Linked DNA regions of Homo sapiens. The protein of the gene in region 1 purifies or fractionates together with the protein of each later gene. This does not show direct contact. Each region holds a gene or a part of one and is shown on either strand. Other genes may lie near its edges.

The links.
Region 2: the proteins of SF3B6 (region 1) and SF3A3 purify together in Homo sapiens (affinity purification with mass spectrometry; 3 studies listed by BioGRID and IntAct, with this or other methods). This does not show direct contact.
Region 3: the proteins of SF3B6 (region 1) and CCDC97 purify together in Homo sapiens (affinity purification with mass spectrometry; 4 studies listed by BioGRID and IntAct, with this or other methods). This does not show direct contact.

Annotation. Positions count from the first base shown.
Region 1 is NC_000002.12:24,070,120-24,073,395, reverse strand, and holds part of SF3B6 (splicing factor 3B subunit 6), read left to right. Parts: intron 1-3,276.
Region 2 is NC_000001.11:37,979,868-37,983,523, reverse strand, and holds part of SF3A3 (splicing factor 3A subunit 3), read left to right. Parts: intron 1-1,712; coding exon 1,713-1,795; intron 1,796-2,799; coding exon 2,800-2,938; intron 2,939-3,656. UniProt on the Homo sapiens protein: Component of the 17S U2 SnRNP complex of the spliceosome, a large ribonucleoprotein complex that removes introns from transcribed pre-mRNAs.
Region 3 is NC_000019.10:41,322,773-41,325,529, forward strand, and holds the end of CCDC97 (coiled-coil domain-containing protein 97), read left to right. Parts: 3' UTR 1-2,101; downstream 2,102-2,757. UniProt on the Homo sapiens protein: May play a role pre-mRNA splicing through the association with the splicing factor SF3B complex which is involved in branch-site recognition.

The DNA.
Region 1 (3,276 bases):
AGTGGTAAAATCTTCTGACTCTAAATTGAACCTCTACATTACACAGTACCATAGCCTCTGACACCCGAACTCATATGAAAGGGCTAGTGACTTAAGAGTCCATCTGAAAGGATTTCTAAAGTTTTTATTTTAAAAAAATTATTATTTTACCACAGTAATGACTACGTATAAAGTTTTTATTTCTAGTCGGAATTCCGTCTTGTATGACTTGAGAGCTCCTTCCTGGCTTTAGGACTATGAGGTCTTGAGGACCCTCCTTTTGAATGACACTGTCCCTCCAGAGAGTAAACCAAGAGCTGGAAATACATGATCATTGGTACTCAGATGGGGATGAAAGTGAAAGTGTTATAGACCAGCTGTCCTTTTTAGGAGGTCTCAGTCCTTTGAGCATCTGATAAAAGCTTTAGACTCCTTCCACAGAAGAATACACTCATGTTGCATATATTTCAGGGGATACATGGACTCTAGGTCAAGAAACCCTGCTCTAGATACAGAATGGTATACAAGGCCAGGAGTTCAAGACCTGCCTGGCCAACATGGCGAATCCCTGCCTTGGGGATCAGGAGACAAGATTCTACTTCAGGCCTTGTTACTAGCCATGTGTGTGACTAGTTGCCTAGCTTTTTTGGTTTTCTCTTCATGTATGAGATAATCTGGGTGGTGGCCTTTTAGCTTTTAATGTGGAAACAGCATAGATTGGTTGTAAGGCCTGGGTTCAAATACTGGCTTGCCTACTCTTACGAAACTGGAGAAAATATTTAACCTTATCTGGGTTTCAATTATCTATGAAATACAGTCTTCCTAACCTACTGTCTTAAAAGAATTTTAATTTGGATGAAATTACACAGTGTCTGTGAAGGTACTTTATCAGTTTTCCTTCCCAGTGTACATTAGCCACTCTTCTGCTCCCATAGCATTTCCATGTGTCTCTCCTAGGTTAACACATGGTTTTGCTGTTGTCTCTATATTCATCTGTCACCCTGGGCAGGTTGTGAGTTCCTCCAGGGCTCGTACCATATATTATTTTTGTTTTTGTGTTGATAGCACTTGTGCGATACATGGTAAGCACCCGATGTATACTAAATGAATAATATAGAAAATAGTAGAATAGGCCAGATGTGGTGGCTCACACCTGTAATCCCGGCACTTTGGGAGGCCGAGACAGGCAGATCACCAGAGGTTAGGAGTTCGAGACCACCCTGGCCAAATGGTGAAACCCCCTCTCTAAAAAAAAATACAAAAATTAGCTGGGCATGGTGGCACGCGCCTGTAATGCAATTACTCAGGAGGCTCAAGTGGGAGAATCGCTTGAACCTGGGAGGCTGAGGCTGCAGTGAGTGAGCCGAGATCATGCCACTGCACTCCAGTCTGGGCGACAGAGTGAGATCCTGTTTCAACAAAAGAAAAGAAAATAGAAGAATAATATAAAAAGTGGTTGTGATTGGTTTACTAGGGCATTATAAAATTTATTGATAGTACTCAATTAAGGGATGCTTAAAATCAGTGAAGTTAGAGAATGTTTCAGAAAGCCAAAATGAAAGGACAGGGAATAAAGCAGGGGCATCTTCAGAAGAGTGCAGAGCAGCTCAGAACCTTTGTGCTTCTATTTTCCTTGTATCTGGAATGGTTTTCACCAGCTCATCTCATGCCTGGCTCCTCCTCATTCTTCAGGTCTCAGCTTCAGTGTCACCTTTTCAGAGGGGTTTTCCCTGACCACCCTAGCTGAAGTAGCTCCCTGTTTCCCTATCTGTTACAGCTTTCTACTTCTTGTATGAAACATTTCTTTTTTTAAGATGGAGTTTCGCTCTTGTTGCCCAGGCTGGAGTGCAATGGCACGATCTCGGCTCACTGCAAACTCCGCCTCCCAGGTTCAAGTGGTTCTCCAGCCTCAGCCTCCTGAGTTGCTGAGATTACAGGCACCCACCAGCATGCCTGGCTAATTTTTGTATTTTTAGTAGAGATGGGGTTTCACCACGTTGGCCAGGCTGGTCTTGAACTCCTGACCTCAGGTGATCCTCCCACCTCGGCTTCCCAAAGTGCTGGGATTACAAGCATGAGCCACCGTGCCAAGCCGAAACATTTCTTAAGATTTATAATTATTTCAGGGCTGGGCGCAGTGGCTCACGCCTGTAATGCCAGCACTTTGGAAGGCTGAAGTGGGCAGATCACAAGGTCAGGAGTTTGAGAACAGCCTGACCAACATGGTGAAACCTCGTCTCTACTAAAAATACAAAACTTAGCCAGGCGTGGTGGTGCATGCCTATAATCCCAGCTACTCAGGAGGCTGAGGCAGGAGAGCCGCTTGAACCCGGGAGGTGGAGGTTGCAGTGAGCCAAGATCATGCCACTGTACTCCAGCCTGGGCGACAGAGTGCGACTCCGTCTCAAAAAGAAAAAAAAAAGATTTATAATGATTTCATATTTATTTAATGTCTTTCTACTGCCTGAATATAAGCTTGAAGGAAGGGATGATGCTTATCTTTTTCACTATTGTATTTCTAGTGCCTGTCGCAGAAAGAACATAGTCTATGTGTTGAATAGGTTAATAGAAGTTTAGGGTACAGGAGCTTAGGTCTAAATTATAGATTGAGAAACAGCTGTTTTTCTGTTCCATTACTGTGATCATGCTTTATTGTATACCTGGCACCTGGCACTAGGGTGACCAACCTTCCCAGTTTGCCCAGTACTGAGAGATTTTCTGGGACACTGGACTTTCAGTGCTAAAACCTGGACAGTCCCAGTCAAATCAGGATGATTTGGTTTGACCCTACCTGGCATGTAGCAGGCACTTGGTACTTTGTACTTTTTAAAACTCTTTGATACTTGTTACCTCTTTTGATTATTAAACCCACGTGGAAGGTAGGGCACGTGATAGAGCCTGATGGCACTGGATACATGAAGCATCCGAAGCTCACAGAGGCTAAGTTACACGCTTAGGTGTTCTTATTCCTACTCTAAGATTTTAATGCCAGTCAAGAAAATTGTAGCACTTTGGGAGGCTGAGGTGGGTGGATCACTTGAGGCCAGGAGTTCGAGACCTGCCTGGCCAACATGGCAAAACCCCATCTCTACTAAAAATACAAAAATTAGTCGGGCATGGTGGCGCACACCTGCACAAGAATTGGTTGACTCTGTCTCAAAAAAATAAGAAAATAATGTTAGCTCAGTGTCCAATACGTGGTAGGTACAGATACATGCTTTTAAAAGTTCAAATTATAATATGGCTCTCAAGGTGTGAGGTTGATAATTAGGGCTGGGACACTTAAGATGGAGAGTC
Region 2 (3,656 bases), on another chromosome or scaffold:
CCTAGACCTCTTGGACTCAAGTGATGGATCCCGCCTCAGCCCCACCAAGTACTTGGGACTACAGGCGTGTGCCACCATGCCCAGCTAATTTTTTGTATTTTGTGTAGAGATGGGGTTTTGCCATGTTGCCAAGGCTGGTCTTAAACTCCTGAGCTCAAGCAATCCGTCTGTCTTGGCCTCACAAAGTGTTGGGATTATAGACGGAAGCCACTGCATCCAGCCTTACATAAGATTTCTTTAAATTCTTTTTTTTTTTTTTTTTTTTTTAAATAAATACCATGTTCCTGGCTGGACACAGTTGCTCACGCCTGTAATCCTAGCACTTTGGGAGGCCAAGGTGGGCAGATCACCTGGGGTCAGGAGTTCAAGACCAGCCTGACCAACATGGAGAAACCCCGTCTCTACTAAAAATACAAAATTAGCTGGGCATGGTGGCGCATGCCTGTAATCCTAGCTACTCAGGAGGCTGAGGCAGGAGAATCGCTTGAACCCAGGAGGCGGAGGTCGCGGTAAGCCGAGATTGTGTCATTCATTGCACTCCAGCCTGGGCAACAAGAGCAAAACTCAAACTCAAAAAAAAAAATTTTTTTTTGTAGAAATAGGGTTTCACTGTATTGTCCAGGCTAGTCTTGGACTCCTGGACTCAATCAATCCTCCTGCCTCAGCTTCTCAAAGCCTTGGGATTACAGGCATGAGCCACTGTGCCCACCCAGATTTATGTGTTCTTCTAGGTGTTCCTGTTTTAGACACAAACAATACTAGGTACATGGAAAATAAAACAACATGATCTTTCAGTCAGCAAAAAGGTATTTAATGTCTTTTCTTAAAGATGTTTAAAAATAGCTTATCACAGGCCGGGCGCGGTGGCTCACGCCTGTAACCCCAGCACTTTGGGAGGCCAAGGCAGGTGGATCACCTGAGGTCAGGTGTTCAAGACCTGCCTGACCAACATGCAGAAACCCTGTCTCTACTAAAAATAGAAAAAATTAGCCGGGCATGGTGGCTCATGCCTGTAATCCCAATTACTCAGGAGGCTGAGGCAGGAGAATCGCTTGAACCCATGAGGTGGAGGTTGTGGTGAGCCGAGATCATGCCATTGCACTCCAGCCTGGGCAACAAGAGCCAAACTCCGTCTCAAAAAAAAAAAAAATAGCTTATCACAAGAGATGAGGTTTAATATGACAATCTCAAAAGGATCACAAGGAAATCCATGATTAGATTCCTCATGGAATTGTGAAGAAATGTCCCAGAGTTGTAGTGACCAAACTTCAAGTTCCATGCAGGCAAGTCAGATCCCTTGTCTGTTTTGTTGTTTTCTGTACCCCGTACTTGGTACAAAGATGCTTAATAAGTAGTTACTTGCGTGAACAAATGGCACCTTTGAGCACCTTGTTTTAGGGTGTCAGAGTCTTTAACCAAGACCCTAGCATGAGGTAATAATCGACAAACGTTTCTTTTAGTTTAATGTTCATTAACTTGATCTTTATTTTGTAAAGTTATTATGTCTGATATTTTCCTTCAGTCCAGTGAAATTAACACTCCAGTTGTAGTAGGATTGAATGATAGGCAAGCAAAAAAAACCAAAATTAGCCAGCCCTTGTTACTTCTTTAGAAAACACTCAATTTTGATCTCACTTATTGGAGATTATATTGTAACTTGTTACAGTATAAATACCTAACTGAATTTCTTGTCATTTCTTTCCTCTTTTCAGAAGCTGGATTATATCACATACCTGTCCATCTTTGACCAATTATTTGACATTCCTAAAGAAAGGAAGAATGCAGAGTATAAGAGGTAGGCATTAATAGTTTCTAGGCCTCTCCTGGATTTGATTAGAAGATAATGTGAAGTTTTTGAGGGTGAAGTTCTGAATTTGTTGCCTGGAAGGCATACATGAAGGCATACTTCCAGGTTTATTGGAGGATGGGGTTATGAATGATGTGGTTTTAAAACCTTTGCGATAGTCTGGACGTGGACAAAGGTGTGTCTGTGGGCACATCTTCCATCTTATGCCCATAGTGTTCTTAATTTTGTCTCATTATAGAAGGAACTCTCCCACTCTGGGATTTCTGTGTTTTTGGAGTTTAATGGGAAAAAAAATTAGACTTTCTCAGATAGTGACTGAAGTGAGATGCTTAGGTGTGATGTATAAGTGAAAAATTTATGTTTTTGTTAATTACTCTCCTGATTAGTGATTTTATACCCTTCCCCTCTTTTTCTCATTTTCTTTTTACTGAAATCTTTTATGTGCAAAGTAATTAAGACCTTAGTATTTAGCATCATTTTATGAGAATAAAAGGAGGCGGGAAAGGTCAGAATCAAAATGACATGTTGGGAAAAAAGTCCATTGTAAGTTCATTTAAAAATGAGTATTGGCCGGGCGCGGTGGCTCACACCTGTAATCCCAGCACTTTGGGAGGCCGAGGCAGACGGATCACCTGAGGTCAGGAGTTCGCGACCAGCCTGACCAACGTGGAGAAACACCGTCTCTGCTAAAAATACAAAATTAGCCGGGCATGGTGGCGCATGCCTGTAATCCCAGCTATTCGGGAGGCTGAGACAGGAGAATCGCTTTAACCCGGGAGGCGGAGGTTGTGGTGAGCCAAGATCCCGCCATTGCACTCCAGCCTGGGTAAGAGGAGCGAAACTCTGCCTCAAAAAAAAAAAAAAAAAAAAAAAAAGAGTATTAAAAAGATAGCATTACTAGAATTATAAGTACTTTATATTCTGCAGGGAATAACAAGATACCAAAAATAGAAACCCTTTTTGCTTTGTCTGCATTGTGTGTTCCTCTGTAGATACCTAGAGATGCTGCTTGAGTACCTTCAGGATTACACAGATAGAGTGAAGCCTCTCCAAGATCAGAATGAACTTTTTGGGAAGATTCAGGCTGAGTTTGAGAAGAAATGGGAGAATGGGACCTTTCCTGGATGGCCGGTGAGCTTCAGTGGGATGTGAATGGTGGACATGCCAGGGAATTGAAGTAATTATTTTCCTTTATCTTGAGCTTCCACTTTAGGGCATTAGGTATCAATTCCTTGGTATCACTTGTGACAATGAGGTATTCCCTGCCAAGTATGCTATGTTTTTTTTTTTTGGAGACGGAGTTTCGCTTTTGTTGCCCAGGCTGGAGTACAATGGCGGGATCTCGGCTCACCTCAACCTCCGCTTCCCGGGTTCAAGCAGTTCTCCTGCCTCAGCCTCCCGAGTAACTGGGATTACAGGCACGCGCCTCCACACCCGGCTAATTTTGTGTTTTTAGTGGGGACAGGGTTTCTCCATATTTGTCAGGCTGGTCTCAAATTCCCGACCTCAGGTGATCCGCCCACCTCGGCCTCCCAAAGTGCTGGGATTACAGGTGTGAGCCACCGCACCTGGCCGTATGTGAGTTTTTTTGAGTGTACTTTGGAGCAAGACTGCCAGGGTCCACTTGCCTTTGACTGTGCCCAGATTTTCACCAATCACATCATTACTGCTATGTGGTTCCTGCCAACCAAGAGCTTATCAGATCATATGTTAGGAATCTACATTCTCACTTCTAGGGATAAACATGAGTTTTTCCTGAACTCTCCAGGGAGAGAATGTGGACAAACCTTAGCTTCATCCTAAACCTGGTGGGGTTTTTTTGTTTTTTGTTTTGTTTTGTTTTGTTTTG
Region 3 (2,757 bases), on another chromosome or scaffold:
CCAGGCCTGCTCAGTGACCCTTTCTCTAGGGGGACATCAGGGCAGTGCCCCACAACCCACACACACCACCATCTCACTGGGTCTAGTCTCATCTCAGACAACCCCCACCCCCACTGTTTCTGGGGTTCCCTTTCTCATCTCTCCCACCCTGTCTCCTGCCTCTGTCTTTCTTGGTGTCTGTCTGGGCTTCTTTCTGTCTCTTTCTGTCTTTCTGTCTCTCTCCCTACCCCCGCTCCCTCTTTCCAGTGCTCTGGCTGGCTGTCTCTCCCTTTCTCCCCCTCTCTCTCTGCCTTAGGCTCTGTCTCCACCGCAGGGCCCAAGGTGAAAGTCCTCCCCTTGCCGGAGGCCAGCTGGCAGGGCCTTTCGTGGCTGGAAGTGGCCAGTTTGGTTCCGGTGCTGACCCCTAGGCCCCAGCGCAGCTGCCTCCCGTGCTGTCTGTCTCCCCCTCTCTGTTTATGTCTGCGCTGTGTCTCACACTCAGAGCCTCCTTGCTTCTGTTAGGTTCCCATCTCTCCTTCTGCCTCACTCTGGGCCTCTTCTTTCTACTTGTACATTTCCACCTCTCTAGGCCTCTGCTCTCACTGTCCCTCTCTGTCTGTCTCTCAGCCTTTATCTCTGGGTTTTGATCCCCCACTCCAGGCTCTGGGCCCCTTCTTCCCCCTTCCCTCAAACCTGGCTGCTATAGGCAGCAGAACCCTGACCACTGAGTAATACAGCCCCAGGGGAGGGAGGAGACCCCAGGCAGGGAGGATGGGGGCAGCTCTCTTCTCTCCCCAGGACCCAGGCTGTGGATCACGGGGCCTGCCAGCTTGAGTGTAGAGGGAGGGGGGACTCTACCCTTCTCAGCCCCACCAGCCCCCCTCTGCCCAACCACAATTTTCCCTTCCTCCGCCTTCCTCTCCCTCTCCTGTTTACACTCCCCAAATGCGCACAGGCTGTTATCATGGGTCCTGAGTCATCCCACACACAGCCTGCCCCAGCGTCCCTGCCCCCAGCTGGCCGCAGGGCCCGCCCCATGGAGCCCCCTGCCGCCCTGGGCTAATGGGAGCCAGATGGCCGCCTGGTGACTCAGCCACCGGGCCTGTGGGAACCCAGGCGTCCCGCCTTCCCATGCCCCCACACCCGGCTCCTGCTCCCCCAGCAGACACACACAGGAGGGCCTGGCCACTGTTGAGGGGGCACACAGGGCAAGGGTCACCAAGTCGGGGCCTAGGGACTCCTCATGCCTCTGAGATGGAATGGTGGTATCCTGCCGTGGCCAAGCCTGAAGGACCCTCAAAACTGCCTCCTGGAGTCCACGGTTCCTGACCTCCGAGCCTCAGCTATGCCCTCTGGGTCAACCAGAATTAGAGCCAGACAGGGAAAGTGAGAGCTGGATGGAGGCAGACAAGATGCTCAGAGCGACTATTAAAGAACGAAAGCCTCTGCTACGGAGCGCTTCTGTCCTCTGTCAGGCCCGAGCGAAGTGCCTGACACCGGGTTGGATCCTCAGATGGCCCCATGAACTAGTGAAGTGGGTCAAAGGAGGCCTGGAAAGATGTTGCTTCCTCAAGGCCACTCGGCCATCAGAGGCAGAAATGAAACAGGAACCCAGGCCTAGAATCACAAAGGTCCTAGAAACCACTTGGCTGTCTGGCCTCTCAGGTGTCAGGGCCATCCAGAGTGAGACAGCATTGGAGGGACAAGTGTGCATGCAGATGTCCTCAGACGGGAAGGTTTGAGAAGGGTCAGATGGTAGGCGGGCCTAACAAGGGCTCCGTGCTAGCCACTGTCCCGCACACAGACAGGATCAGGTCATCTTGATATGGAGATCAGTCCCCAAATCACTGAATTGTCCCAGCAGTGCTATGCCCTAGGTACTACCAATATCACTCCTCTATTTCCCAGAGGAGGAAGCAGCAGCTAGACTCCAGGACCTTGGGGTCATATCTCTCAGAAAGCCAAGAGTGCAGGATGAGAGCTGTCTGTCTCTTACCTGCCTGTATTTGTGCCCCATTTTTAAAGAGCAGAGGGCCTGGGCCACAGGAAAGGTATCAGCCCTTGGTGATAGGCACATTTTTTACCAGTCTATCATTTGGTCATTAAATTTGTTTACAATATACTTTGCTATACGTAAATTTGTTGTGTAGGTTTTTAAAAAGCGATGAGAGACACAGAAATTGAGTCAGAATTAGGGTTAGTCAGATGGTCAAGACGTGAGCATCTAGCTGACAGACAGAGGTGGAGCCAGTCCCAGGGACAGGGATTAGATGGGGAGACAGGAAGAGAGGTGGAGACAGAGTGGGGTAGGGATGACGGGAGACACACCCCCTGGTCACTGCCTCTGAGACCTGGGGGTGGTGGGCCCCAGGGCGGGTGCCTCCCATCCCCCTCCCAGTTCTCCCGGGGTCGGGGTAGGTGGAAAGGCTGAGTCAGGGAGGGCGGGCCCCGCTGGGAGACAACCCCTAGGTGGGCATCCGGCCCCCACCCCCGTGTCTCCTGTCCGTCCTGGCCCTGGCCTGGCTCGCTGGCCTGGCCGCCACCCCGCCCCCCACGTCTGACACCTCCATGCGTCCTGCCAAAGCAAGCTGCCTCCCTGCACTCTTCCCCCTCCAGCTCCAGTCACTCTGTCCCTCTGTCCCCCGTCCCTTCTCCCTGCTTCTGTGCGTTTCTTTCCAGCCCTCTGCCTTCCTCCCTCACCGCCACTGCTCTGTCTTCTCGTTCTGTCTCCACACCTCTGGCTGTCGGTGTCTCCCCGTGACTTTCCGTCTCCCCTCT